Homo sapiens: one gene and its partners. The protein of the gene in region 3 interacts with the protein of the main gene of each other region in a pairwise test. Each region holds a gene or a part of one and is shown on either strand. Other genes may lie near its edges.

What was found.
Region 1: the proteins of SREK1IP1 (region 3) and CT45A1 interact in binary tests that used the Homo sapiens proteins (3 or more experiments, as listed by UniProt).
Region 2: the proteins of SREK1IP1 (region 3) and SPMIP2 interact in binary tests that used the Homo sapiens proteins (3 or more experiments, as listed by UniProt).
Region 4: the proteins of SREK1IP1 (region 3) and NME1 interact in binary tests that used the Homo sapiens proteins (3 or more experiments, as listed by UniProt).

Annotation. Positions count from the first base shown.
Region 1 is NC_000023.11:135,708,954-135,716,662, forward strand, and holds the start of CT45A1 (cancer/testis antigen family 45 member A1), read left to right. Parts: upstream 1-4,685; 5' UTR 4,686-4,737; exon of another isoform or gene 4,738-4,754; intron 4,755-7,709.
Region 2 is NC_000004.12:159,025,222-159,032,246, forward strand, and holds part of SPMIP2 (protein SPMIP2), read right to left. Parts: intron 1,504-7,025; exon of another isoform or gene 842-1,503; intron 1-841.
Region 3 is NC_000005.10:64,723,672-64,730,696, reverse strand, and holds part of SREK1IP1 (protein SREK1IP1), read left to right. Parts: intron 1-2,517; coding exon 2,518-2,590; intron 2,591-6,123; coding exon 6,124-6,313; 3' UTR 6,314-7,025. UniProt on the Homo sapiens protein: Possible splicing regulator involved in the control of cellular survival.
Region 4 is NC_000017.11:51,148,922-51,156,583, forward strand, and holds the start of NME1 (nucleoside diphosphate kinase A), read left to right. Parts: upstream 1-4,637; 5' UTR 4,638-4,741; intron 4,742-5,303; exon of another isoform or gene 5,304-5,452; coding exon of another isoform or gene 5,453-5,523; intron 5,524-6,729; coding exon of another isoform or gene 6,730-6,733; coding exon 6,734-6,859; intron 6,860-7,662. Other genes in the region: NME1-NME2 protein, read left to right, coding at 6,734-6,859. UniProt on the Homo sapiens protein: Major role in the synthesis of nucleoside triphosphates other than ATP. The ATP gamma phosphate is transferred to the NDP beta phosphate via a ping-pong mechanism, using a phosphorylated active-site intermediate.

The DNA of each region.
Region 1 (7,709 bases), on a different chromosome or scaffold from region 3:
AGGATATAAACCTTGAGAGTTGATATAAGGTTGAAAGAGGAGATGATAGTACATTGCTGTCCTTTCTAGCTGGACCCAAACTCTTCTTTATGACAACTACTGAAAGTAAACAAAACATTCACCTAATTAATATTATATATCAGGTTGCCAGGGATGTCACGGTTGCTGACGCAACAAAACCACCTGCAGTACAGCAGCTGCAGTTGGAACAACAATTTGATTAAGTTTATGGTCCGATCTCGGCTCACTGCAACCTCCACCTCCCAGGTTCAAGCAGTTCTCTTGCCTCAGCCTCCTGTGTAGCTGGGACTATAGGCATGCACTGTTACACCTGGCTAATTGTTTGCATTTCTTAGCAGAGACAGGGTTTCACCATGTTGGCCAGGCTAGTCTCAAACTCCTGACCTCGAGTGATCTGCCCACCTCAGACTCCCAAAGTGCTGGGATTACAAGCGTGAGCCACCGCGCCAGGCCCCGGCTATTTTTTGTATTTTTGGTAGAGATGTGGTTTTGCCATGTTGGCCAGCCTTGCCTGGAACTCCTGACCTCAAGCGATCCACCCACTTCTGCCTCCCAAATCCTGGGATTACAGGCGTGAGCCACTGTGTCTGGCGAAAACTTCACTTTTAAGTGAAACACAGAAACAAAATCAGATAATCAGAAAATGAGATACTGCATGTTCTCATTCATATGTGGGAGCTAAACAATGGGTACACATGAACATAAAGGTAGAAACCATTGACTCTGAGGACTCCAAAAGGGAAGTGGAGGGGAGGGAGGGAGCGGGTTGGAGGGTTGAAAAACTACCTATTGGATGCTCTCTTCACTATTTGGGTGATGGGTTCACTAGAAGCCCAAACCCCAGCATTATGCAATTATACCCAAGTGAGAAAACTGTACGTGTACCCTTCTGGTATTTATAATTTTAAAAAGGTTAAAAAAGAAAGCTTCAGTTTTAAATCTTAACCAGATATACATGAAAAGGATTACTACACTTTGACACCTTTACAAGTTTCTATGTTAGTTTTTAGTATTAAAGGTGAAACCTATTCCTTGACCACTTTATTAATTGTATATCCTCTTTGAACAAACATCCAAAATACAAGACTGTCACTTTTCGTTCTGTAACTGTGATTCTTCACTGCAGTCTTCTATAGATTTTACAGAGTTAATGGTCCCTAATATCTGCCATTCTCCAACTGTCCTGGGTGGCGAAATGGCTGCCATAGTAAACTTGTCACTGATAAATAGAGTTTCTGGAAACATGCAGGGCTTGTTATTTAAGAGTGACTCCATTTGGGCATTCTGGTGGATGGCCTACAGGTTTTCTTGCAGAGTATACTAGAGTCTCCAGAATGAATAACCCTAGGAACTTGAGGAACTAGCGCTTTCCAGAATTTTGGAAGCCAAGATACAAATATTGGTTTTCTCAAAAGCAATGCAAGTGGGAAGGAAAATCCATATCTAGACTAAATGTCTGTTGAGGTAAGAAGAAAGCACTTCTCTTTTTACAATAGAAGTGATCTATTGTAATCCACATACCAACTAGTGGCTGGCAGATCATTTTGGAGTCTGGTGCTAAATTGGGGGCTTAGTGTTGGTCTCCATTCCTGGAAGATTGTTCACTCAGCAATGACTGTAGCCAGGTTTGCCATGGTGAGTGGAAGTCCATGCTACTGCGCATAATCTCCATCCTTGACAGTTTGACCACTTTGTTGAGCCCATAAGATTGTGACACAAGTGTTGGGGAAAGAGGCTAATTAATATGTAGATAATAAGTACCTTATCCATCTGATTATTAAATTCTGCTCTGCTGAGGATACCCTTTGCTGAGAACTCTCATGAGACCCCAATATCTTCACATTGTATGTCCACTTGGAAAGGTCTGTCCACATATTTGTTTTTTTTTCTCAGACGTCCTTGACAGAAATTTTTAATCATGTGTCCTCAATGTCCCTGACAATTCAGCGAATGAGTGGGACACAGCCTATGCATGGTACATACTTACACGTCTGGATATGCCTCCTCCAAGAAGGTGCACTGCTCAAAGTTCTTCCCTCTGGGAGGATTTCCCTTCATCACTGTCCTTCAGGGCTGTCCCAGTCAGGACTGTCACATGCAGCTGTCCACTTGTGGCTTGTGTGGTAGGCAGGATTCTAATTAAGCCCCAACAAGATTCCAGTCTCATGGTTATTCAATCAAATACTCATATGAGTACTGCTGTGGTGGGATTTTTTTAATGCAAAAATGAGTATTTCATTTTGATAACACTAGAAGAAACAAACAAAACAACTGTGTTCCTACATCGAAGTGAAAACAATGTTTAAGCTTTCCTATCAATCAAATATATTCCAAAAGAAAATGTGTTCTGTAAAGGTTCTGAAACACAGGCAAATATTAATACAATAGGCTAGGAAGCTATAATACTGAAAATGACTCTCTTCTGACAGGGTACTTAACAAACATAATTTTTAATTTTAATTTTAATTTATTTATTTTAAGACGGAGTCTCCCTTTGTCGCCCAGGCTGGAGTGCAGTGGCTCGATCTCTGCTCACTGAAGCTTGTGCCTCCCAGGTTCAAGTGATTCTCCTGCCTCTGCCTCCCGAGTAGCTGGGATTGCAGGTGCCCACCACCATGCCTGGCTATATTTTTAATTTTTTTTTTACAAACATAACTTTTGAATTACAAAACCAGTGAAGTAATCCCTTCCAAATAATTGTGTCAAGAGTGAAACTGCTTGTTCCATTAAAACTCCAAAACTTTCGCTGTAATATTTTTTGCCACTATGAACAATTCAAGTAAATTTTGCTGCACTTAAAATAAGTTATGAAAGTGGAAAAATGGGCGGGGCGTGGTGGCTCACACCTGTAATCCCAGCACTTTTGGAGGCCAAGGAAGATGAATCACTTGAAGTCAGGAGTTTGAGACCAGCCTGGCCGATGTGGTGAAACACTGTCTCTACTAAAAATACAAAAATTAGCCGGGCATGGTGGTGCATGCCTGTAATCCCAACTTCTGGGGAGGCTGAGGCAGGAGAATCACTTGAACCTGGGAGGCGGAGGTTGCAGTGAGCCGAGATTATGGCACTGCACTCCAGCCTAGGTGACAGAGCCAGACTCTGTCTCAAAAAAAATAAAAAAGGTGGAAAAATATACAAAGTTCCAGATTAAAATGATTAATAGATGCAATATAATAAGGTTTCCCCTCCTTTCTTTTTTTCTTTCTTTTTTTTTTTTTTTTTTTTTTTTTAGACAGTCTCACTTTGTCACCCAGGCTATGCGATCAAAGCTCAATGCAGCCTCAAACTCCTAGTCTCAAGCCTCCTGGTCTCAAGCCTCCCAAGTAGCTGGGACCACAAGTACACTTTCAGCTAATTTTTGTATCTTGTGTACAGACGGGGTTTCACCATGCTGCCCAGGCCACTCTTGAACTCTTGGGCTCAAGGAATCTACCCACCTTGGCCTCCCAAAGTGCTGGGGTACAGGCATGAGCCACCACACTGTGGCCCTCATTTTTCTTATCAATTAACAACTGTTACCTTTAACAGATAGAGGTTGAATTTATATTTATTTATTTATTTATTTATATTTTTAGACAGAGTCTCGCTCTGTTACCCAGGCTGGAGTGCAGTGGTGTGATCTCAGCTCACTGCAACCTCACTTCCCCAGTTCAAGTGATTCTCCTGCCTCAGCCTCCCAAGTAGCTGTTGGGACTACAGGTGCGCGCCCCACGCCCGGTTAATTTTCTGTATTTTTAGTTGAGACGAGATTCACCATGTTGGCCAGGCTGGTCCCGAACTCCTGACCTCAGGTGGTCCAGCTGCTTTGGCCTCCCAAAGTGCTGAGATTACAGGCGCGAGCCACAGCGCCCGTTGGGGTTGACTTTAAAACACAACCCCATCCAATGAAGATTTCAGTTTGTTGATGTTGTCGTTTCTTTCTTTCTTTCTTCTTTCTTTCTTTCTTTTCTTTTCTTTTCTTTTTTTCTTTCTTTCTTTCTTTCTTTCTTTCTTTCTTTCTTTTCTTTCTCCTTCCTTCCTTCCTCTCTCTCTCTCTCTCTTTCTTTCTTTCTTTCTTTCTTTCTTCTTTCCTTTTTTTTTTTTGAGATAGAGTCTCCTCTATGGCCAGGCTGGAGTACGGTGGTGCGTTCTCGGCTCTCTGCTACCTCTGCCTCCTGGGTTCCAGCGATCCTCCCACCTCAACTTCCCGAGTAGTTGGGACCACAGGCGCCCGCCACCATGCCCAGCTAATTTTTGTGTGTGTTTTTTTTTTTTTTGGTTGGTTGGTTGCTCTGTAGAGCCGGGGTCTCACTATGTTACCCAGGCGATTTCATCCCACTGTGTGAGAAGGTTCTGCGTTCCTCTGCTTATGTTGCTGTGCAGTTGTTACTGAAGGTCGCCTGTAGAGGGCGCCAGTCAGCGAAGGGGAGGGCTGCGCTTCCTGGTTCTCTGGGGCACGAGGCTTCACCTCAGGATTCTGGCGCCCCCAACAGGTTCCCAGTGTTCGGCTGGGCCAGCACACTGTGGCTGGCTGCTTCCCTTCCTTCCATCCCCTTTGGACCAAACGGGATCGGTGCTTCTGGTGAGACGCCTCCCCATGCACATCACTCCCAGGTGCCCTAGGGGGCACATTTCCCACAACTCCCAGAGGGCAGGTTTCTAGAAAGTGCCACCAGTGGGGAGGCGCCACAACTTCACTGCCATTTTGTGAGGTGCTGCTGTCTCTCCTCCAGCAAGGTCAGGACTTAAGGACTGTGAGTGGGGCAGTTTTTCCCTGGATGCTTTAATTTCACCCCAGAAAGTGTCCTTTTTCCTCAGAAAGAGTCTTTTCTGTGGTGTTCTCTGTCTGGTGTGTGGTAGGGCTCCCTTGGGGAAGTGGCTCAGCTCTGGGGACACCGCCATGGGCGCCTGTGTCAGCCGCGGGGGAGCGTTTTCCTTGGGCACCTCGTCTCAGCCATGTTGTGAGGCCGGGGGGCTTTTCTTGGGGGCTCTGTCTCGGTGATGCTAGGGACTTTTCCTACTGAAATGACCTGAGCCCGGGGGTGGGGGCCATGCCTTGGTTGCTTGTGTCGGCCTCGGGTGCGGTGCTGTTTCTTTCCCACTCAGTCGCAGTCCTGAGCGGGGGCTCTGCCTTGGGGACTCTATCTGTTCTCATGGAACATGGTGGGGGTGGCTGTGTCCCAGACGCATGATCGCCGCCCTGTGGGATCGCTGACGGGGGCTTTATCTCAACCTGCGAGGGACTCTTCCTTGGGTGCTGATGTCGTCCGTGAGGCACATTTGCCCTTGGATGTCGCTCACTCTCAGCTAGGATGTGTTGGCTTTTCTTTGGTTCTGCTTATCCGCGATGTGGACGCTTACCGGATGCTTTGTCTTGGTGGTGGGTGCTCTCTCCCGGTGCTGCGGGGGAATGGGGTGCTGTTCCTTGGATTCTCTAAGCCTATGGTGGGACTCAGGGAGCTCTGTGTCAGCCATGAGGGAGGCCACGTGACCTTGGGAACTCTGTCTCTACCCAGGTTGGGGTGCTTTTCCTCGGTGGGTTGATCTCAATTCTGAAGGAACTCTTCACCGGGACTCTATCTGACCTTTCGGCCACAGCCTCAGGTGTCTGTGTGGGAATGGAAGTCCAGAAATATTCGAAGGTTCCAGCTGTGCCACATTCGAACACTCGCTGTACAGTTAGTCTTTCATTCCAGCCACTCCGATGGGTGTGCAGTGATCTCTCCTTATGTCTACACTCGCATTTCTCTGCCGATTAATGAGATTGAGCACCTTTTTAAAAAAATTGTTTTTATTTATTGATTTTTGTTTGTCTTTTGAGATGAGGTCTCCCTCTGTCACCCAGACTGGATTGCAGTGCCACCACACCCAGCTATTTATTGTTTTTTTTTTTTTTTGAGCACCATTTTATGTGTTTATTGGTCATTTAACTATGTCTTTCATGAAGTTCCTTTTCAGGTATTTTCCTCCAGCTTTTACTGAGATGTTTGTATTTTAAAAATGGATTTGTAGTTTCCATATATTCTGTATTTGAGTTATATACACATGCACGCAGGCATATATGTACATATATAAAAATACGTATACAATTTTAGTATCTTCTATAAATCTTTTTTGCTTTTACACGATCTCAATAATGTATTTTAGATGAACAGATTCTCTTAATTTTATTAGTCAGTGTATTATTTATGGGTAGTGCTTTTTATTATTTAAGAAACATCTTTGAATCACCCAATGCCATTACTATTATATATATATAATACTTATATATATATAATACTTATATATATAATACTTATATATATATAATACTTATATATATATAATACTTATATATATAATACTTATATATACAATACTTATATATAATACTTATATATTATATATATATAATACTTACATATAATACTTATATATATAATACTTATATATAATACTTATATATATAATACTTATATATAATACTTATATATATAATACTTATATATAATACTTATATATATAATACTTATATATAATACTTATATATAATACTTATATGTATATAATACTTATATATATAATACTTATAGGTATATAATACTTATATATAATACTTATATGTATATAATACTTATATATATAATACTTATAGGTATATAATACTTATATATAATACTTATATGTATATAATACTTATATATATAATACTTATATGTATATAATACTTATATATATAATACTTATATGTATATAATACTTATATATATAATACTTATATATATAAAATACTTTAAGTTCTGGGATACATGTGCAGAACGTGCAGGTTTGTTACATAGGTAGACACATGCCATGGTGGTTTGCTGCACCCATCAACCCATCATCTACATTAGGTATTTCTCTAATGCTATCCCTCCCCAGCCCCCCTCCCCCAACAGATCCCACTGTGTGATGTTCTCCTCCCTGTGTCCATGTGTTCTCATTGTTCAACTCCCACTTATGAGTGAGAACATGTGGTGTTTGGTTTTCTGTTCCTGTGTTATCTTGCTGACACATGTCCCTTCAAACGACATGAACTCATTCTTTTTTAGGGCTGCAAAGTATTCCATGGTGTATATGTGCCACATTTTCTTTATCCAGTCTATCATTGATGGGCATTTGGGTTGATTCCAAGTCTTTGCTGTTATGAATAGTGCCGTGATAAACATACGTGTGCATGTGTCTTTATAGAAGAATGATTTATAATCCTTTAGGTATATACCCAGTGATGGGATTGCTGAGTCAGATGGTATTTCTGGTTCTAGATCCTTGAGGAATCGCCACACTGTCTTCCACAATGGTTGAACTAATTTGCACTCATGATGATAATATTCTAAGTTTTCTTCTAGATCTCCCAATCATCAGAAATAAATTCTCATGGAATGGAGTAAAGTCAGAGTCCAGATATATTTGATGTGATTATTAGCCATTAGAGTATGACTCTTATGAAGTGCATATTCAGCTTTTCCCCCCAAATTTTAGTGGGATGTTTGTTTTTTAGAAATTCATTTGTAGTTCTGGATATATTCTGGATTCCATTCATTTGTTGCCAGATAAATATGTATATATGTGTGTAAGTAATATATATTTTATATATAACCTATACTATATACTACATAATGTATAATCTACAAACATGATTTGGTTTTTCACCTCTTAATAGTGTCTTTGAGGAACAGAACTTTTCCATT
Region 2 (7,025 bases), on a different chromosome or scaffold from region 3:
TGGCATGATCTTGGCTCACTGCAACCTCTATCCCCTGGGTTCAAGCAATTCTCCTGCTTCAGCCTTCCAAGTAGCTGGGATTACAGACGTGAACCACCACACCTGGCTAATTTTTATATTTTTAGCAGAGACGAGGTTTCACCATGTTAGCCAGGCTGGTCTCGAGCTACTGAGCTCAAGTGATCCCCCCACCTCGGCCTCCCAAACTGCTGGGATTACAGGAGTGAGCCAGCACACCCACCCCAAAATCTGCATTTTAACAAGCCTCTCCAGGAGAATAATTTCCACATTAAAGTTTTAAAACCATTTGCTTAAATAATCTTAGATTATTTCTTCCTGTATTTTAAAAACCTGCTTATGGCTTCAGACTTTGGGAAATAAGGTGTACTTGGTTGGCTTATTAAGAAAAAAAAAGAATTTTAAGATGGTTTTGTGTCCTTTCCCCAGCACCAATCTCCCCCAGATAATCAACTTCTCAAGAGAAAAAAACAGTTTAAAAAAATTATTAAATTCATATTATTTACAGGTGCTTTCATTTCATTAAACCATGATAGAAAACCTTATAAAAACCTTATATCCCCCAAATTACAGATTTTTTAAAAACTGAGTTCAAAAGAGTTAAGGGGAAAGCCGACATTGGTGTCTAAGTTTACAGTTTTTGCTTCTTGAAGCAGGATCTTCATGCTTACACCTATTTCCTAGTAGGTAGCACAGGGCCTGGCACACAGTAAACAATCAACTCATCTTGCATTTAATAATTTTTTCACATCCTGTTTCAACAACAGAAACTTCTTTTTGCTTAATCAAGAGCATTTCATCCTGATTTAAAGAAGTGATATTCACAGTGCGCTGCCCATGCCGACCTTGCTAAGCTTGCTCCACACACCCTCCTATGCCCACCATGACCACTGTTCAGCAGATGGAAGATGATGCCTAGTGGACAGCAAAGGCCTTGATGAATACGTGAAGGAACTAGGAGTGGGAATAGCTTTGTGAAAAATGGGCACAATGGCCAAGCCAGAGTGTATCATCATTTGTGATGACAAAAACCTCACCATAAAAACTCAGAGCACTTAGAAAACAGCACAGTTTTCTCGTACCCTGGGAGAGAAGTTTGAAGAAACTACAGCTCATAGCAAAAAAACTCAGACTCTCTACAACTTTACAGATGGATCATTGGTTCAGCATCAGGAGTGGGATGGGAAGAAAAGCACAATAACAAGAAAATTGAAAGATGGGAAATTCATGGTAGACTGTGTCATGAACAATGTCACCTGTTCTCAGATCTATAAAAAAGTAGAATAAAAATTTCATCATCACTTTGGACAGGAAATAGCTATGAAAATCAACAAGCTCAGTTCAATGGGCAAATCTCCATACTGCTTCTTTTTTTTCATTACTGTGTTCAATTATCTTTATCACAAACATTTTACATGCAGCTGTTTCAGTATCAGATTAATTAGGATCATCCCTTTGGTTAATAAATAAATGTGTTTGTGCTAAAAAATAAAAAATAAAAAAATTAAGAAGTGATATTAACATAACCTACAAAGGATCAACTTTGGAAAATTAAATAAAGCCATGGAAAGGCAAATAAATCCTCCTCCCTTCCATCTTAGCTTATGCAGTAATTATTTATATACATATATTTATATTTATATATTTATATTTATGCATATATAAAACAAAACCAAAAAACTTGAAGTTAAGACAAAGCTTTTCCTTAGAAGTCCTCTTCTAAGGGGTTGGTTCAGGTGCTTTTCAAAGGGATAGCAGCAACTGATTTTTTTTTTTCTGCAAATTACACTGTGTTGAGTTAGGTGACCAACAATTTAAGGTAGGATTGATTTGGAGTTGCTGTCACCTATAGATAAGGCTTTCATGTAACACTTATAGTTTTGTAAATGTAATAATATGTCTTATGAAAAGAACAGTGTTTGATGGAGGACAATGAATAAGGTCTCCCACTTTTGCTATTATGATAGCAACGCCTAATATCTAATGTCCTTATCAAATAAATCACTGCAACTGGATATAATTAAGCTAACTAGATGTTTGGCAATTTTGTTTTCAATAAATGGCCCATTATATTCTATCAGAAGATCATTTCCAACTATCTTAGCTTTTAATTTATTATTTTTGAGTAGACTGAAGAATCATGGTAAGGACATATGTATATTGTCTACAATATATCTTAAAGTAATAGAACAAATTTTGATTCAGGGCAAACTGCATGCTATGACAACAGAATAAAAGGCAGGTAAAAATAAAAATAGACAAATAAAATGCAGTTTAGTCAACCCAATGTTTCAGTACCATTAAAATGTGTAAGCTTTTGTCATGAATTAGTTTTTAAAAATCTAAAAGAGTTGTCTTGTGGATTATAGTGCTGGGACTTAAACTGCATTTGCAGTAGGACTATTTTATTATTTCTTCAAACAGGAAACCACTGGCAATTCAGTGTGAAGTCATTTTCTATTTTTAAAATAATTGAATCTGAGACATAACTATTAGTATGACAGTTTCACAGAGCAAAAAATAAGATGAATAAGTGGGTCTGAAATGCTGGCTAATGGAGCAATACATTTCAAAATTACATATACATTTATGTGCTTCTCCGACCACTTACAGTTTCATTCATCATATCGTTTTTTGGCCATTTCCTAGAGAGTATTTCCAATTCTAATGTATTTCTAACAGAAATTTCATGCTGTGATCACTCCTTTGTAAGGTAGAGTTCTGTAATATTTCTGGTTTACATGAGCAGACTTTCTAGTAGGTATATGATGGCTGACTAAATATATTAATACTTTTATTTAGTCAGTAATCTGGATGTAAGGCACATAAATACCCCATATAAACAGGGAGCAGGCAGAAGCTTCCATCCTTCTTACAAGGCTGTGTGGCCTTCAGCAAGTCACTTAACTTACCTGAACCCTGAGTATTCCCATCTGAAAAAATAGGTTAAATTAGATTATCTGTTATAGTGCCTTTTTAATTTTATGTCTTATATTAACTATTTCTTAACTATATTTAATTTGAGCCAAGTAGGAATTAATGAAGAAAAATCTGAATTAAAGAATGTATTTTTAAAGAAATGTAATTTTTAAGTATTTTTTTTTCCTTCGAGATAGGGCCTTGCTCTGTTGGCCAGGCTGGAGTGCAGTAGTGTGATCACAGCTCACTGCAGCCTCGACCTCCCAGGCCCAAGCTATCCTCTGGCTTAGCCTTCTAAGTAGCTAGGATCACAGGTGTGCACCACCACACTCGGCTGATTTTTAGAATTTTTTGTAGAGATGAACTCTCTCTGTGTTGCCCAGGCTGGTCTCAAACTCCTGGGCTCAAGCAATCCTCCCACCTCTTCCTTCCAAAATGCTAGGATTATAGGTGTGTGCCACCGCATTCAGCCCAAGTTTTAAACTTTAAAATTGCATAGGACCTGGAACTGGGTAAACAAATTAATGTCATTTGTATGTAAACAGATGTTTTAAAAATATATAACCATGCTCTAAAGTAGTTTTAAATTTTCTTCCTAATTTTGTTTATAAGGTTTTTATAGTAAAATCTTTGTAATACAAAAATAACATTTTCTAGGCAGGTGCGGTGGCTCACACCTGTAACCCAGCACTTTGGGAGGTGAAGGCTGGTGGATCACTTGAGCTCAGGAGTTCGAGACCAGCCTGGCCAACATGGCAAAACCCCATCTCTACTAAAAATACAAAAATAAGCTGGGCGTGGTGGCGCACACCTGAAATCTCAGCTACTCGAGAGGCTAAGGCAGGAGAATCGCTTGAATCCAGGAGGCAGAGACTGCAGTGAGCTGAGATCGTGCCACTGCACTCCAGCCTGGGCAACAGAGCAAGACTCTGTCTCAAAAAAACAAACAAACATTATTTATAAAATCTCCTCACTATGTCATTACAGAACTTAGCAAATTGGTAGTAAAACTTCTGTGGAAGAATAGCCAGCAGATAAATGTTTTAAAAGTACAGATGGTTAGCTTGCCCTATTAGATTAAAACTCACAGTTATCGAAAACATGAATTATAGAAATCAGAACAGCATCTGATTGTGGGAGGATTGACTGGGAAAGGACATACAGGAACTTTTTAGAGTGATAAAAATATTCAGTATCTTAATCTAAAAGTGCATACATAAAGGTGCTCACTTTGTAAAATGTTATCAAGCTAAAGACAAATTAATGTACTTAATAGAGTATGTTATATATCAACTTTTTAAAAAGGTTTTAAAAGTTGGATCCACCGATAGTTTTTTCAAAAAGAATTTCAATTCCTTTATTAATTGAAAGCTAAATAAATTCCAAGATCCATCTGCAATGTAGGAAGTAACTTATGCTCTAACTATGATACTCAAAAAGAAGAGAAATGAGTGGGAAAACAAAACAAAACATATGGCTGAGTTTTGTGTAGTGTTATGTGAGGTAATTTCCTGTTATTTCTCAGGGTTTTTGGAATTGGATTTGTGTTTCCTTTGGATGCCACACTATGCTGTGATGGATATTCAGACTGAGCAAATCAACCCTATTATGTTCTGGTTATCCAATAGATTATAAGCTTCTAGAAAAGAGAACATTTTTTTCATGTATATTTTTGTATCCTCCAATGCTAATGGACAAGTTTTTAGTACTTAATTGGCACTCAATTTGTTAAATTGGATTTCAAATATGTAGGATAAAAAATTAGCATCAAAAATGTATTTTAAAAGGAAATATATCAAAATTTGATAGAAAAATAAGACTTGATGAGTGATCACATTAGTTAAGTGGTCGAGTATACCAGCTAGATATATACTGTGAATCATCACATAGAATAATGAAGCATCAGTGGAAATTTTTTAAAATGAAAATTAAAATAACTGTAGTTATAAATGACAAATAAAAGAATAGTGTTGGCTGGGTGCGGTGGCTCATGCCTGCAATCCCAGCACTTTGGGAGGCCGAAGTGGGCAGATCTCTTGAGCCCAGGAGTTCAAGACCAGCCTGGGCAATATGGTGAAACCTCATCTCTACAAAAATACAAAAATTAACCAGGAGTGATGGTACACACCTATAGTCCCAGCCACTTGGGAGGCTGAGGTGGGAGGATCACCTGAGCCCAGGGAGGTCAAGGCTGCAGTAAGCCATAATCGTGCCACTGCACTCTAGCCTGGGTGACAGAGTGAGACCCTCCCTCAAAAGAAAAAAAAAAGAGTAGTGTTATGCCTATGCCAAGAGAAAGCAAAATTTTATTTATTTATTTATTTATTTATTTATTTATTTATTTATTTATTTATTTGAGACAGAGTATCACTCTGTTGCCCAGGCTGGAGTGCCATGGTGCAATCTTGGCTCACTGCAACCTCTGCCTTCTGAGTTCAAGCAATTCTCATGCCTCAGCCTCTTGAGTAGCTGGGATTACACGGGTATGCCACCACTCCCAGCTAATTTTTGTATTTTTAGTAGAGATGGGGCTTCACCATGTTGGTCAGGCTGGTCTCAAACCCCTGACCTTAAGTGATCCACCTGCCTCGGCCTCCCAGGTGCTGGGATCACAGGGTGTGAGCCACCACGTCCAGCCAAAATTTCACTTTAAAATTAAATTAGAAATCAATAAAAATCCTATGAAACTCTTAAAAGTGCTCTAAAGTAACTCTCAGAATTGCTGCGAAATTCCTCAGTATTTTCTCATCCTCTACATGGTTTTTTTTACATTATTGACATCCAAAATAATTTCTAAATGATTTCTCATGATATTTTGTTGTCATATTAATTATTAATAGTGACAAGATATTTTTCTTGTTTTTATCACAATTACACAATATTTGCATGGATTAAATCAATCTTTTGTTTGCCTAGCCTGGGTACTTCACTTAAACTAATGTTTTTATGAAAACACGGACTTTATATTAAAAACAGTTCCAAACATGGAGGAAAGAGCTCCAAGCTCCAATAGGTTAGAAAGGTGGTAAGTGATGGGCCTTATAGGAGTTAAAATTATTATTCTTGAACAGCTCAAAAGTTTGATTTCTGTGAACTGACTGCAGTACCATCTAAGACATAAGCATCCCTAAAGAGTTGAACTTGGCTATAATCAAGCCTCTAGAGCCAAATTCAGTTTACAGAGAATAAAGGAACAAGTTAAATGATATGAGAAGGAAGTAATTGACAAATTCGGAACGTTGGACATTTCTGCTGCATAACTGATCCAGTTTCTGCAACAAGTAAATGGCAGGGAAAAAAGAAGGGAAGACTGCACCAGTTTAAAATAGACAAAAAGAGAAAACACAACTGAATGCAATGTGTGTTGGATCCTTATTCTCAAAATCAACTGTAAAAATACATTTTAGAGACAATCAGGAAAATTTTGTTATGGAGTTGTTAATTACATGATGCCAAATGATAGTTATTAATTTTGTTAGGTGCAGTCACGGCAATGTGACTATGTAAGAATATGTTCATATTTTTTCAGATGCACAATAAAATATGTAAGTGAAATAATATGATATCTGGGCTTAAAATATTTTTACAAGAAAAATACGAGAGATGTGAGTCAAATGTGGCAAAATTTTGATAAATGTTGAATATGGGTGACAGGTAAGTGGGAGTTCATTGGCGTGTGTTTTAAAATAGTCACAATAAAATTTGTAAAAGGCAAAAGCAAAAAAGGATTCATATCTACTTCTTTGAAGTAATAAAAATGATTTTAAAAAATATTGATGGGGGCCGGTTGTGGTGGCTCATGCCTGTAATCCCAGCACTTTGGGAGGCTGAGGCGGGCAGATCACCGGAGGTCAGGAGTTTGAGACCAGCCTGGCCAACATGGTGAAACCCCATCTCTACTAAAAATACAAAAAATTAGTGGGCATGGTGGCTCACGTCTGTAATTCCAGCTACTTAGGAGGCTGAGGCACGAGAATCACTTGAACCCTGGAGGGAGAGACTGCAGTGAGCTGAGATCATACCACTGCACTCCAGCCTGAGCAACAGAGGGAGACTGTCTCAAAAAAAAAAATTGTTGGGCTTTAAAT
Region 3 (7,025 bases):
TCCTTCGGCTAATGACTCCCTCTTTCATTGACAAAATAGAAGACACCAAATGAGAGCATCTTAGCTTCCAATTACTGAATCCACAAATTTGCATATATATATATCCATCTTTCTTTTCTTTCCTTCAGTTAAAATGGAAGGACTGTCCTTCCTTTCGAAGGCATGTCCTACCATAATTGCTATGAATTCTTTTCTTCAAGAATTTTATTCCTTCAGTTATCCCCTCTCTGCGTCATCATTTCAATCAGCATCAATTTTTTTTCGTTTTTCCCATTGTTCTTCCCTAGATCCTTTGCATCCCTGTAGCTAACATTCCATTTCTCTGCTGCTTTCTAGCTAAACTTCTCATCAAAGTTATTTATTCTTACTTTCTCTACCTTTTTATTTCCATTTGTTTTTCAGTCCACTTGTCAAGGTCTTTAAATACTTTTTGCCAAATTTATTTGGCGTTTTTATATCCACATTCTACTTGGCCTTTAGGTACTATTTGATAGGTAGCCCCTCTCTTCAACATTCCTACTTCTTGGTTCTGGTATTCTTCCAACCCCGTGGCCCTTCTTTGTCAGTCTTTTTGACAGCTCTTCTTCTTGCTCTTCTCAGCCCGTAAATGTTGGAGTTCCTCAAGATGCAGATAATCTTCCTGGGCTTTACTCCCTGTATTTTTTTCTCATCATTCTCTTACTAAATGATTTTATTTATTCCCCATAGTTTTAAATACTATCTATAAGCTGATCAGTGTGTGTGTCCAGACTAATCTCTAAACTTCAGAATCACATACCAAACTACCTACTTCAGTTACCTACTTGGATGTCAAACAGGTCTTTTAGATCTCAAATGTCTAAAATTGAAATCTTTACTTCCCACCCACAATTGTCCTTCAGGCTCCTACCCACTTCCCACCAATCCACATTTTAATCAGTGGCACTGCTAAAAACCTGGTGGTCATCCTTGATTCCTTTCGTTCCATCATCCTTCGCACACACATATCACCTCAGGACACCATCTCTGGCCTGCACTACTCCAGTTACTTTATTATTCCCCTGCCTTTTCCCCTTAGCCCTTTCCAATTCATTTACCTTGTAAGTCTGCCGATCACACAGTCCGTCTCACTTAGAATGTAAAATCCTTACTGTTGCCTTCATGGTCTTGAATAAGCAAGTTCCTGCTTACCTCTCTGGCCTCTCATTTCATGGTATTCTACATGTATTTATGATATTGTTCATCTGTTCTCATTCATGTTCATTCTTATTCATAGTTGCCCCTCCCCTTCTATCCGCAACAACCTCTTCTTAGTTTCTAGAACGCACCAAACTCTTTTTGCCTTGGAGCTTTGGCACTAATTTCCTCTTCCTGACATGCACTACCCTTGCTGTTCACTTAGAATGCTATCTTTGCCTGTTAATTTTCTTTCTCACCACTTAACTATAAGTTCCCTGTGGGCAAGGATCATGCACAGCAAAGACCCAGTACATAGCACAGTACTTGACACATAAGCATTTAGTAAATATTTGTTGAATAAATGAAAGCGTGGTCAATAAAAATCTCCTAGGATTTTATGAGACAAACTGATGTCTATTCTTTACCTTGCCAAATAACCCCAAGGCTTCCTCCCGAGTAGCTGGGAGTACAGGCTCCTGCCGCCACGCCTGGCTAATTTTTTGTATTTTTAGTAGAAATGGGGTTTCACCATGTTGTCCAGCCTAGTCTCGAATTTCTGACCTCATGATCCACCCGCCTCGCCTCCCAAAGTGCTGGGATTACAGGCATGAGCCACCGCGCCCAGCCTGCTTTTTCTTTAAATATACACAAGTTCTGTCACCCAGAAATACTTCTTATATGTACAAAGATTTCCATTGCTTATTGTTTCTAACAATGAAAGTAGAAATTGATAAAATATGGTTAATGGGAACACTTCTGTGTTTAATAATGATATATATTTAATGACAAAGATAAATATCTGCTATGTTAAGTGAAAAAAAAGCTGCAAAATATATGTGACAGTACATTTTTCAAAGGCAAAAAATACTTGGAACTTATATGCAACTATGTGTGTATGAGTAAATGTGTGTGTATTTGGTTTTATATAAAGAATGCCTACAAGAATACACACCAAATAGTGTATTTAAAAAACAAGTTAGAGAATAATACATATTGCATGATCCTAATTTTGTTGCAAAATAAAATTTTAAAACTGTGCACTGTTGTAGTGTTCTGCTTTTTAAGGGCCAAACAATACCCATCAAACCACTGGCCTTGATTTCCTATGGGAATTAGAGGTGGGGTACTTGCATTTTTTTACTTGATGGACTTAGTATTTGAAATGTTTATAAAAAACATTTAATACTTTTATGAGTTTTTTAATGGATAAAGATAATTAAGAAAGGGGAAAATTATTACAAAAATTATCCTAACCAGTGAAATTCACCAACAGCTAAAATTTTAACATATATACATGCCATATTAATATATAGAATCATATATTAACCAGATTTTTTTCTTCTCACCTCTCCCCCACAGGAATAAATGAAGAAGAGGAAAAGAAGAAAGAAAAAAGCAAAGAAAAAATCAAATTGAAAAAAAAAAGGAAAAGGTATTTTTTGAACAACATTTTAAAAAACAAAGCAGGCCTATGAGTTTAGGATGGATTATAAAATTTTATTTTTTGTGTATAATAGTTAATTTAATATTTTTTCTTCAACAACTAAGCTTTTCATTGAGCTTAAGTTTAAACTCTTAATATATATTTTGTCTTCATATACATGAAATTGACTAAAATATTTGTATTCTTGTAATATTACCATGGCTAATAAATTAACTTATTAATAGAATTTAATAGAACTTGTCATGCTGTCCAGGTGCGATGGCTCATGCCTATAATCCCAGCACTTTGAGAGGTCAAGGCAGGAGAATGGCTTGAGCCCAGAAGTTTGAGACAGGCTTGGGCAACATAGGGAGACCTCATCTCTGCAAAAAGTAAAAGAAAAATTATCCAAGTGTGGTGGCATGTACCTGTGTTCCCAGCTATGTGGAAGGCTGAGGTGAGAGGATTGCTTGAGCCCAGGAGACATGATCACACCACTGTACTCCAGCCTGGGCAACACAGCAAGACCCTATCTGCCCCCCGCCCACCAAAAAAAAAAAAATATATATATATATATATATATATGTAATTATATGCACATACACACACCTTTGTATTTATATGTATTTAGCCTGACAGTTTCATATATATATATATATATGGTGGCTGATGAGGGTTGTGAAAGACCTGAAGGAATTTTTAGCATCACAACTTCCTTCCAGTCTTCGGCCACCTGTGCATTTTTACTATTAACTCTTTTAAAAACTAACTGGTTAAAGAAGTTATTGAAAGTAGTAAGTGGCCACTTCTCTTGTTAATGCGTGCAGTTTCATTCATACTAGCATAAATTTGCACATACAGGCATTTTTTAAAAGCACTTAACCATAATTATTTCTAGTTTAGACCCAGTTCTCATACAGAATAGGTTGTAGAAACCAGGGGCTGCCACTTTGTAGTTTTTATAGAGCATTTAATACATGTATTTTAATATTTCAGGTATCTTATAAATTGGAAAAGTAGCCCACTTTCAAGCGTTAGGAGTTAACTAATAATCTTTAATATAAAAACAAATAGGAATTTAGAGCTCAGGGTTTTCTGTTAATGTATTATTAAATCATTTATTCTAGCACAGGAAGATGGATTGCTCACAGGAAATGATATCTGATAGTCTTCCAAATTCTAATACAGATAGTTCCCAATTTATGTGGTTTGATATGATCTTTCAACTTTATGATGGTGCAGTAGAAATGTACTTCAAGTACCCATACAACCATTCTATTTTTCACTTTCAGGACAGTATTCAATAAATTACATGAGATATTCAATGCTTTATTATAAAATAGGCTTTGTGTTAGATGATTTTGCCCAACTAGAGGCTAATGTAAGTGTTCTGAGCATATTTAAGGGCAGCCACGTTAAGCTATGATGTTCAGTAGGTTAGCTGTATTTTGTGTATTTTCAGCTTCAGATAGATTTATCAAGGCGTAACTCCATCATAAGTTGAAGTACATCTGTATATTTCTTTTTTTTTTTTTTTTTTGAGACAGAGTCTCGCTCTGTTGCCCAGGCTGGAGTCCAGTGGCACAGTCTCAGCTCACTTCAAGCTCCGCCTCCCGGGTTCACTCCATTCTCCTGCCTCAGCCTCCCCAGTAGCTGGGACTACAGGTGCCCACCACCATGCCCGACTAATTTTTTTGTATTTTTAGTACAGACAGGGTTTCACCGTGTTAGCCAGGATGGTCTCAATCTCCTGACCTTGTGATCCGCCTGCCTCAGCCTCCCAAATATTTTTTATAGTAACAGATTATTTATTTGGGCCTCTTTACCTTGAGCATCACAAACCTGAAATTAAATTAACTTTTCTGTGCACACTTAGCAGAGATAGTGCCCCCTGAAAGTGTTGCTATGCCACAGCCTGAAATTTTGCCTTAAAAAGGAGACTTCAGGCCAGGCACGGTGGCTCACTCCTATAATCCCAGCACTTTGGGAGGCTAAGGTGGGTCGATCACCTGAGGTCTGGAGTTTGAGACCAGCCTGGCCAACACAGTGAAACCCCATCTCTACTAAAAATACAAAAAAAATTAGCTGGTGGATTACAGGTGGGTACCTGTAATCCCAGCTACTTGGGAGGCTGAGGCAGGAGAATTGCTTGAACTCGGGGGAGCGGAGGTTGCAGTGAGCCGAGATCACGCCATTGCACTCCAGCCTGGGCAACAAGAGTGAAACTCTGTCTCAGAAAAAAAAAAAAAAAAAAGAAACAAACAAAAAAAAAAACTTCAGGACCAAAAAGCTAAAGAAAAAAGTGCAGGCAGGGAAGAAGCTTTAGTCAGAATCCAGAGGTCAAGTCAAACAGGGTCTTTAAAAGAGGAAAATAGACAAGATTTGAGAATAACAACTGAAGAGGCAAGGGTGCAGGAGAATACATGAGAAAATAAGCTTTAACAGATGATTGGAAGTCTAAGTAAGTAGACAAACAAGGAGGAAAAAGGAACACAACATTACAAAAATAAGGGAAAACTCGGAGTCACTAAAGGAGGAAGGCAGTCAAGGAATTCACACACTATACAGACACAAAATAGCCTTGGAGCCCTGTAGTCTCCTGAATTTACATTGGCACCTCCTTTATATCCGTCTCAGATTTTCTTAGTTTGAGTTTTAACTCCTAATATTTAGATCACTAAACTAACTCTTTAGATACCTTTGTTTACATTTTAAATTAACTCAGTTTCTGTCTTGTCACTCATATTTTGAGTTTGAGTATAGGTAGAATGTTGCACATCTCTTTAAGTAAGATCTTAAAAGATAGGGTTTTCTGTTTTTTTCTTTTTCTTTTCCTTTTTTTTATGAATATTAGAGGAAGGAATTGAACCAATTTTTTCAATTTAGTATTAGAGTAATATTTTTCAAAAGCACAATGATAACCCATCCTTTTTCATTTATATATAGCATAAAAGCATCCTTTTGTAACTAATGAAAATTATTTTGTAATGCAAGTATTCATCTGTATCACTCTCCGTCTAGAGGGATCAAGTACTTGAAAAATCAGAAGAATTACCAAAAGTGCTTTTATTTTGCTAACTTTCAGCTTTCATTCATTCATATGAACGTACAATTATAGCCCTTTAAAATAGAGAATTGCAACTTTTGAGACACTTTTAAGAAAATATGCGAAGTTATTGTATACACAAGTGAATATAATAAGGCTTGGTGAATGCCCCTTTGTTTGCCTTTTAGGATTTTGAATGATATGACTGCATGAAAAACCAAAAATCACAGAAAAATAATTTCATCCTTATTGACTTTAAAACTCATTACATTAGTATTGAGTGGAATAGATACTAGTTTTGTTGGTTTCTGTGACCAAGCAGCAAAAATTCTAAATTCATCGTTTTAAGGGAATGCAAATATATGAAGCATTTTTTAAGTTTATGTTTATACTCCCTACCTTACTCCAAGAAGAATTTAAGGCAGTTCAAATCCCACTTAAATTTATCTATCAGTCATAAATGCAATTCTCAGTCAGTATGTATTATTATCCATAGGTCTTACTCATCCAGTTCCACTGAAGAGGACACTTCAAAACAAAAGAAACAAAAATATCAGAAGAAAGAAAAGAAAAAAGAAAAAAAGAGTAAATCAAAAAAAGGGAAACATCACAAAAAGGAAAAAAAGAAGAGAAAAAAGGAAAAGCATTCTTCTACACCTAATAGTTCTGAATTCTCCAGAAAGTAACTGAGACTTTGGCTTAAGCCGTTAAATTTAAAAATTTGTTTTTAAAACGTGTTTGCCCTTCCTTGGAATTTGCTATATATTATGCTTTGCAATAAATCACAGCCTTTTCCATATAGACATTTTTCGTATTTGGGACCATTATCCCTCTGGCAATATATTTTTAATGTGCTGTAACTGTAAAGTATTAAATCAGTCTTGTTACTTGATAGCCATGCCCCAAGTATAGCTATTTGTGTATACTAAACACATCATTTTTGGTATTTGTGTCTCTGTGTGTTTGGCTAGTGTTACTACTTCATAAGTTCATTGTAAAATGGCTTTACTGCCATCAACATGGGTCATCTACCTAGCAGTTAATGAGTATTGCTGGATCAGGTGTCCACCTTCCAATGATGAAGCAAGGTAAGGGGTAATGTTTTGCTCTTGACACAGAGAAATTTAATAGCTTTATGTACTAAAATATAATATCTTTTAAAGATAGTGAAATTCTTCAGTTTTTTAAATCTCTAGGGATTTTTTTTCAATGTTGTAGAAGATGCAGCTGCTTAATGGTCTTGACTAGGACTTTTTAAATGAATGGTGTCTGCAGGTAGATGATCATGAAAATATCTCTAACAAAGTTTTACTCTTCTATGAAATGCAGAATTTCTAGTACCTGCCTCCTTTGTTTTTGTAATAATTAAAATACTTCTTGTATAAAGAGATTAGTTCA
Region 4 (7,662 bases), on a different chromosome or scaffold from region 3:
CTCATGCCTGTAATCCCAGCACTTTGGGAGGCTGAGGTGGGTGGATCACGAGGTCAGGACATCGAGACCATCCTGGCTAATATGGTGAAACCCCATCTCTACTAAAAACACAAAAATTAGCTGGGCGTGGTGGCGGGTGCCTGTAATGCCAGCTACTCGGGAGGCTGAGGCAGAGAACTGCTTGAACCTGGAAGGTAGAGGTTGCAGTGAGCCGAGATCCCGCCACTGCACTCCAGCCTGGCAACAAAGGGAGACTCCGTCTGAAAAAAAAAAAAAAAAAAAAAGTAAAGGAATAAAAGAATGTCTACTCTACAGGCAGAGGGGTTATTTCTTGATTATATGCTAAACAAGGGTGGATTGTTTGTGAGTTTTCTGGGAAAGGGATGGGCAATTTCCCCTCTCCCCCAGTTGAGTGCTCCTCCCCTTTGTAGACCATATAGGGTAACTTCTGGTTGTTTCCATGGCATCTGTAAACTGTCATGGTGCTGATGGGAGTGTCTTTTAGCATGTGAATCCATTATAGTTAGCATATAATGAGCAGTGAGGGTGACCAGAGGTCACTTTTGTTGCCATCTTGGTTTTGGTGGGATTTGACCGGCTTCTTTACCACTGTTTGATCACCAAGGTCTTTGTAATCTGTGTCTCATGTTGATCTTTTTTTTTTTTTTTGAGGCGGAGGTTTGTTCTGTTGCTCAGGCTGGAGTGCAGTGGTGCGATCTCAGCTCGCTGCAACCTCTACCTTCTGGGTTCAAACAATTCTGCCTCAGCCTCCCAAGTACCTGGGACTACAGGCGCGCGCCACCACGCCGGGCTAATTTTTGTATTTTTAGTAGAGACAGAGTTTCACCACGTTGGCCAGGCTGGTCTCGAACTCCTGATCTCAGGTAATCCACCCACCTCAGCCTCCCAAAGTGCTGGGATTACAGGCATGAGCCACCGTGCCCAGCCCTTGTGTCGATCTTCTATCTCATCCTGTGACTAAGAATGGCTAGCCTCCTGGGAATGCAGCCCAGTAGGTCTAAGCCTCTTTTTACCCAGCCCCTATTTAAGATGGAGTTGCTCTGGTTCGAAAGCCTCTGACAGTATCTTATTATACTGTGTAGGCTGGTCTTGAGCTCCTGGCTTCAAGAGATCCTCTTGCCTCAGCCTCCCAAAGTGGTGGGATTACAGGTGAGAGCCACCATACCTGGCCCTTTCCCTCATCTCTAATTCCTGGCAACCACTAAACTAGTCTATCCTCTATGTCTATACTTTTGTTATTAATATTTCACAAATGTTAAATGCAATAATACAATAGATAACTTTTTATGTTTGGCTTTTCTTCAGTCAGCATAATTCCCTTGAAATCTATCCAAGGGAATTATGTATATTGCATGTATTAATAGTTTGTTATTTTTTTCTATTGTTGAGTAGCATTCCACAGTATGGATGTAGCATAGTTTGTTTAACCATTCACATGATGAAAGACATTTGGGTTGTTTCCAGTTTTTGGTTATTACAAATAAAGCTGCAATGAACATTTGCGCACAGGTTTTTGTGTGAACAGAGCATAAGTTTTCATTCCTGTTGGATAAACGCCCAACAGTGCAATGGCTGGGTCATATGGTAAGCACATGTTTAGTTTTTTAAGAAACTATCGGCCGGGCGCGGTGGCTCACGCCTGTAATCCCAGCACTTTGGGAGGCCGAGACGGGCGGATCACGAGGTCAGGAGATCGAGACCATCCTGGCTAACACGGTGAAACCCCGTCTCTACTAAAAATACAAAAATTAGCCGGGCATGGTAGCGCGCCCCTGTAGTCCCAGCTACACGGGAGGCTGAGGCAGGAGAATGGCGTGAACCCGGGAGGCGGAGCTTGCAGTGAGTCGAGATCGCGCCACTGCACTCCAGCCTGGGCGACAGAGCGAAACTCCGTCTCAAAAAAAAAAAAAAAAAAAAAAAAAGAAACTATCAAACTTTTTCAGAGTGGCTGTACAATTTTATATTCCTACCAGTAATGTGGATCCAGTTTCTATACCTCCTTAATAGCGTTTGGTGTATCACTACTTTCATTTTAGCATTCTGATAGGCATGTAGTAATATCCGATTTTGGTTTTAGTTTGAATTTCCCTGGTGGCTAATGATGTTGAACATCTTTTCATGTGCTTTCTTGCCTCTGTATATCCTGTTCAATGAAATGTCTATTCATGTCTTTTGCCCATTTTCTAATTGGATTTTTTTAACCTGTTGAGCGTTCAGAGTTCTTCAAATATTCAAACCTTCAAATGAAGAGAAGGCCTTTATCTGATATGTGGTTTGGAAATATTTCCTTCCACTCTAGCTTGTTTTTTCGTCCTCTTCAAAAGGTCTTTCACAGGACAAAGGTTTTAAATTTCTTTTCTGCAGGGCACAGTGGCTCACGCCTATAATCCCAGCACTCTGTGAGGCCAAGGTGGGCGGATCACCTGAGGTCAGGAGTTTGAGACCAGCCTGGCCAACATGGTGAAACCCCGTCTCTACTAAAAATACAAAAATTAGCCGGGCGTGGTGGTGCACGCCTGTAGTCCCAGCTACTCGGGAGGCTGAGGCAGGAGAATCACTTGAACGTGGGAGGCAGAGGTTGCAGTGAGCTGAGATCCGCCAAGGCACTCCAGCCTGGGTGACAGAGCAAGACTGCATCTCAATAAATAAATAAACAAATAAATAAATAAAGGCCGAGCACGGTGGCTCATGCCTGTAATCCCTGCACTTTGGTAGGCCGAGGCAGATGGAACACTTGAGGTCAGGAGTTCGATACCAGCCTGGCCAGCATAGTGAAAACCCGTCTCTACTAAAAATACAAAAATTAGGGCCAGGCGCGGTGGCTCATGCCTGTAATCTCAGCACTTTGGGAGGCTGAGGCGGGCGGATCACGAGGTCAAGAGTTTGAGACCAACCTGGCCAACATGGTGAAACCCCGTCTCTCCTAAAAATACAAAAAGTAGCCGGGTGTGGTGGTGGGCACCTGTAATCCCAGCTGCTCGGGAGGCTGGGGCAGGAGATTCGCTTGAACCCGGGAGGCGGAGGTTGCAGTGAGCCGAGATCGCACCACTGCACTCCACCCTGGGCGACCTGGCAAGGCTCCGTCTCAAAAAAAAAAAAAAAAAAAGAAAAAGAAAATACCGGGCGTGGTGGCAGACGCCTGTAGTCCCAGCTACGCGGGAAGCTGAGTCACGAGAATCGCTTGAACCCGGATGGCGGAGTTTGCAATGAACCGACATCGTGCAACTGCGCTCCGGCCTGGGCGCCAAAGCGATACTCGGTCTCAAAAAGAAAAAAAAGAAAACAGGAGAATAATGAAATTTTACTTATTTATTTTATTTATTTTTTATTTTTTTGAGACCGAGTCTCGCTCTGTCACCCAGGCTGGAGTGCCCTGGCGCAATCTCGGCTCACTGCAACCTCTGCCTCCCGGGTTCAAGCGATTCTCCTGCCTCAGCCTCCCGAGTAGCTGGGACTACAGGCGCCTGCAACCACGCCCGGCTCATTTTTGTATGTTTAGTAGAGACGGGGTTTCACTATGTTGCCCGGGCTGGTCTCGAATTCCTGAGCTCAAGTGATCCTCCCGCCGCTGCTTTCCAGCGTGCTGGGATTACAGGCGTGAGCCACCGCGCTCGGCCAAAAGTTTTAAATTTCAGTAAGTTCCAATTTATCAACTTTTTCCCTGTATAGATTGGTCTTTTGGTGTCGTCTAAAAACTATTTGCCTGGCCCTAGGTCCTGAGGATTTTTTTTAACTTTTTTTTTCCCCATAAGTGATTTATTGTTTTACATTTAAATCTATGATTCATTTTGAGTAAATTTTGTATAAGGTGAGAGGTTTAGGTTGAGGTTCTTTGGGTCTATATTCGTCCAATTGCTCCAGCATCATTTGTTGAAACGGCTCCTGATTCCATTTTTGTACCTTTCCCCCGTTCATTTCCCCTTAGAGCAGTGGGAATGTTTTTTTGTTAGTGATGATGTCATGCCTTGTGCAAAATCTGTATTAGCATCTCACAACATAAGATTTGGCTCTATTCTAACGGCATTTTCCACCACTCGATGTCCACCGTAATACTTGGCTCTCGAAGAATCACTGGGCTGGCTCCCTCACTTCATGCAGGTCTATTCTATTATCACTTACTCAGAGATTTCTCTGGCCTTTTCTTCACAGCACTTACAAAATGCGATCTATTACATATTAATTTGCTTATTTGCTTCTTGTTTTCCTATACTCCCATCCCTCCCAGAAGCTCCAAGAGAGCATACTGTTTTATCCCTAGGGCCTAGAATAATGCGTCCACGTAGTAGGTACTCAAAATTTTTTGCTTGACAGGCTAGAAAAGGTGAATAAACACAAAGCGGGAGCGAAAAGTCTACTTCTAGGTCAGGCACTCTTTGGACTTCACGCAACGTGTGAGCGCCACCTCTCGGGAAGCCAATTTGCTCGCGAACGAAGGAAGTGAGTCAGAGAACCCGGGGGTGGAGAGAAGAAAGCAAGCAGCTAACCGGAAAGGTCTGAAAAAGCTAGCGCCGGAAGTTAAACTGCAGAAAGTTGTTCCCTAGAATGACTGCCTACTCCCAAGAGGAAGCGTGGGCGAGCGGTGTTCTGCAAAATGGGCTCTCCGGCAGCGGATCTGCGCAGAAGCGTTCCGTGCGTGCAAGTGCTGCGAACCACGTGGGTCCCGGGCGCGTTTCGGGTGCTGGCGGCTGCAGCCGGAGTTCAAACCTAAGCAGCTGGAAGGGTAAGAGGTGTTCGGGATCCTGAGAGGAAAAAGAAAGGAGTGTAGTCGCGGGAGTGGGTTAGGTGAGGAGTTAGTGAAGAGATGAGTTCAGCTCTAAGAGGCGGCGAGGAGGATCGGATGGGAGGAGGGGCAGGGAGCGCCTGTGGACAAGTGCAGACCGGTCGGCGCACGTCCCACGCCACGTGGACTCGCCTTTGTCGGTGGCCGCCTTTCTCGTCAGGCCGCGACGACAGGGCTGTGCCTTATTTGTGTCTGTCGAGAGCAGTGCCGGGCACGGAGTTGGCGCTCTGTAAGTGCTTGCTGAATAAATGACGGGTGTGTGTGTCATTCATTCAGCAAGCACTGAGTGCTTACTGTTGTGTCACCGGGACCGATGTGGAGGGACATTTTTAGGGTGTATTTCTGGCGCTTTAGTCCTGTTTTCTCCTGGACAATTTATGCTTGCCCCGCACCCCATCGTGCGATTCTCCGCAGTCTTTGGGCTTTGTCTCTCTCTCTTTTTTTTTTTTTGGAAGTTGCAGAATGGTGATAAATGATTTTCTTTGCTCCTATTGACTGCTAGGCCCTGTGGCTAGGTACCATAGAGTCTCTACACAGGACTAAGTCAGCCTGGTGTGCAGGGGAGGCAGACACACAAACAGAAAATTGGACTACAGTGCTAAGATGCTGTAAGAAGAGGTTAACTAAAGGACAGGAAGATGGGGCCAAGAGATGGTGCTACTGTCTACTTTAGGGATCGTCTTTCAAGGCGAGGGGCCTCCTATCTCAAGCTGTGATACAGGGTAGGTCATGAGCGCAGTCTTCTGTAAAATGAGGGATCTGGACGGAATAGTTACTCTCTAGGCTTCCTTTCAGTATGATGTCCCGTATCAGATATTCCTAATGTCTGTAGTTCTCCCACACCCCACCGTTTATTGGCTAGTCAAAATATTCTTTGCATTGTAAAGTGTAGCATAACATTACAAGAATGGATTAATGGGTTGGGAATGCTGGGTTTTGGCCTTCATTCTGGTGCTGTGGTCCTGTTTCCTCATTTGTAAAATGAAGGGGGTTGTAAAGATATATTCTCTAAAACCCCTAATGCTATGGCTGTGGCATTAAGTCAAACTATTATTTCTTACTGCTTTGTACCGGACATCACTTTCACATTAGTAAAACTTTTCATCAGTGTAGTTTCTCCCAAGCTTGATTATTGAGAAAGATAGTGCCTTGTTTTTAACATCCTGTATCCTAGTTCCACCGCAGTGTTTGGTACACAGTAGATGTTTAAAAGAAGCTTATTAAATCAAATGGTGGCCAGGCTCATGGGGCTCACGCCTTTAATCCCAGCACTTTGGGAGGCTGAGGTGGGCAGATTACTTGAGGTCAGGAGTTGGAGACCAGCCTGGCCAACATGGTGAAACCCCATCTCTAGTAAAAAAAAATACAGAAATTAGCTGGGTGTGGTGGCACGCACCTGTAGTCCCAGCTATTTAGGAGGTTGAGGTAGGAGAATTGCTTGCCTGGGAAGTGGAGGTTGCAGTGAGCCAAGGTCGCACCACTGCACTCCATCCTGGGCGAAAGAGCAAGACTCCATACCAAAAAAAAAAAAAAAAATCAAATGGGGCTGGGTGTGGTGGCTCATGGCCATAATCCCAGCACTTTGGTAGGCTGAGGTGGGCAGATCACTTGAGGACAAGAGTTCGAGACCAGCGTGGGCAACATAGCGAAACCCCATCTCTAAAAAAACCCCACAAAAACCAAAACAAATGAAAATAAAATAAATCAAATGGGATAGAAATTATAGTCCTTGCTTTTGGATCCTTTCCCACATTGACATATTAGTTCATAGATCAGGGGACTGGGGAGGAATTGGGTTTTTACCAGAGGGAGACCTGGAGCTGACCTGACAGATTTAAACCAGCTTTATGGGATAATCCGCTTGAGACGGATGACGCTGTAGGCAAGTGATTCACTGCTGTTTCATTCCTCTACCTGCCTATCCCCAGAACCATGGCCAACTGTGAGCGTACCTTCATTGCGATCAAACCAGATGGGGTCCAGCGGGGTCTTGTGGGAGAGATTATCAAGCGTTTTGAGCAGAAAGGATTCCGCCTTGTTGGTCTGAAATTCATGCAAGTAAGTGGACTTCATTGTTCCCATTTTGATTCCTTCATAGTATAGGAGAACACTGTGATTAACCTGTTTCTCCCCGTCTTTCTTATTTAAAGTTCTCCACGGTAGAGTGAACACAAGTGTCTTGAGACCTGGAAACTCCTCAGTGCCCTAGCGTTTGGCTACATCTTGGAACAAACCAAGTTATTTAGGATTTTCCAAAATAGTCTCTGTAATAGGAGGTGCATTGCTACGGGAAAAGCAGTGCAGAGTTCCACATATGACTGCATCTCTGTAATTTCTGACTGAGAGCTGAGCATGTTTGAGTTCTTGGTCTTGAGCTTCCTGAGCAGATAATTTTAGAGAGATTTTTTTCCCCCTTTGAGACAGGTTGTTTTTTAGCAAGAAAGTCTTTCCATCATCAATTACTAGACACTAATAAATGCTTATTGTTTAGCATATATTAGGTATCATAGGAGCTGGTGGAGGAAAACTATGGTTTTGGTTTTGGGGAGGTTCTTCAGAAACAGCAGAGAGCAGATGTACCTGCAAGCTACTTACAAAGCAATCTTTTGATAAATGCAAAGGATTGATTGACCAATAACCCTTCTTCAAACAAATTCTAGAGATAATCCAAATTCTCGGCTGGGTGAGGCATAGTGGCTCATACCTGTAATCCCAGCACTTTGGGAAGCCAAGGCAGGCTGGTCACTTGAGGTCAGGAGTTCAAGACCAGCCTGGCCAACATTGTGAAACCCCGTCTCTACTAAAAATACAAAAATTAGCTGGGCATCAGGGTGGGTGCCTGTAATCCCAGCTATTCGGCA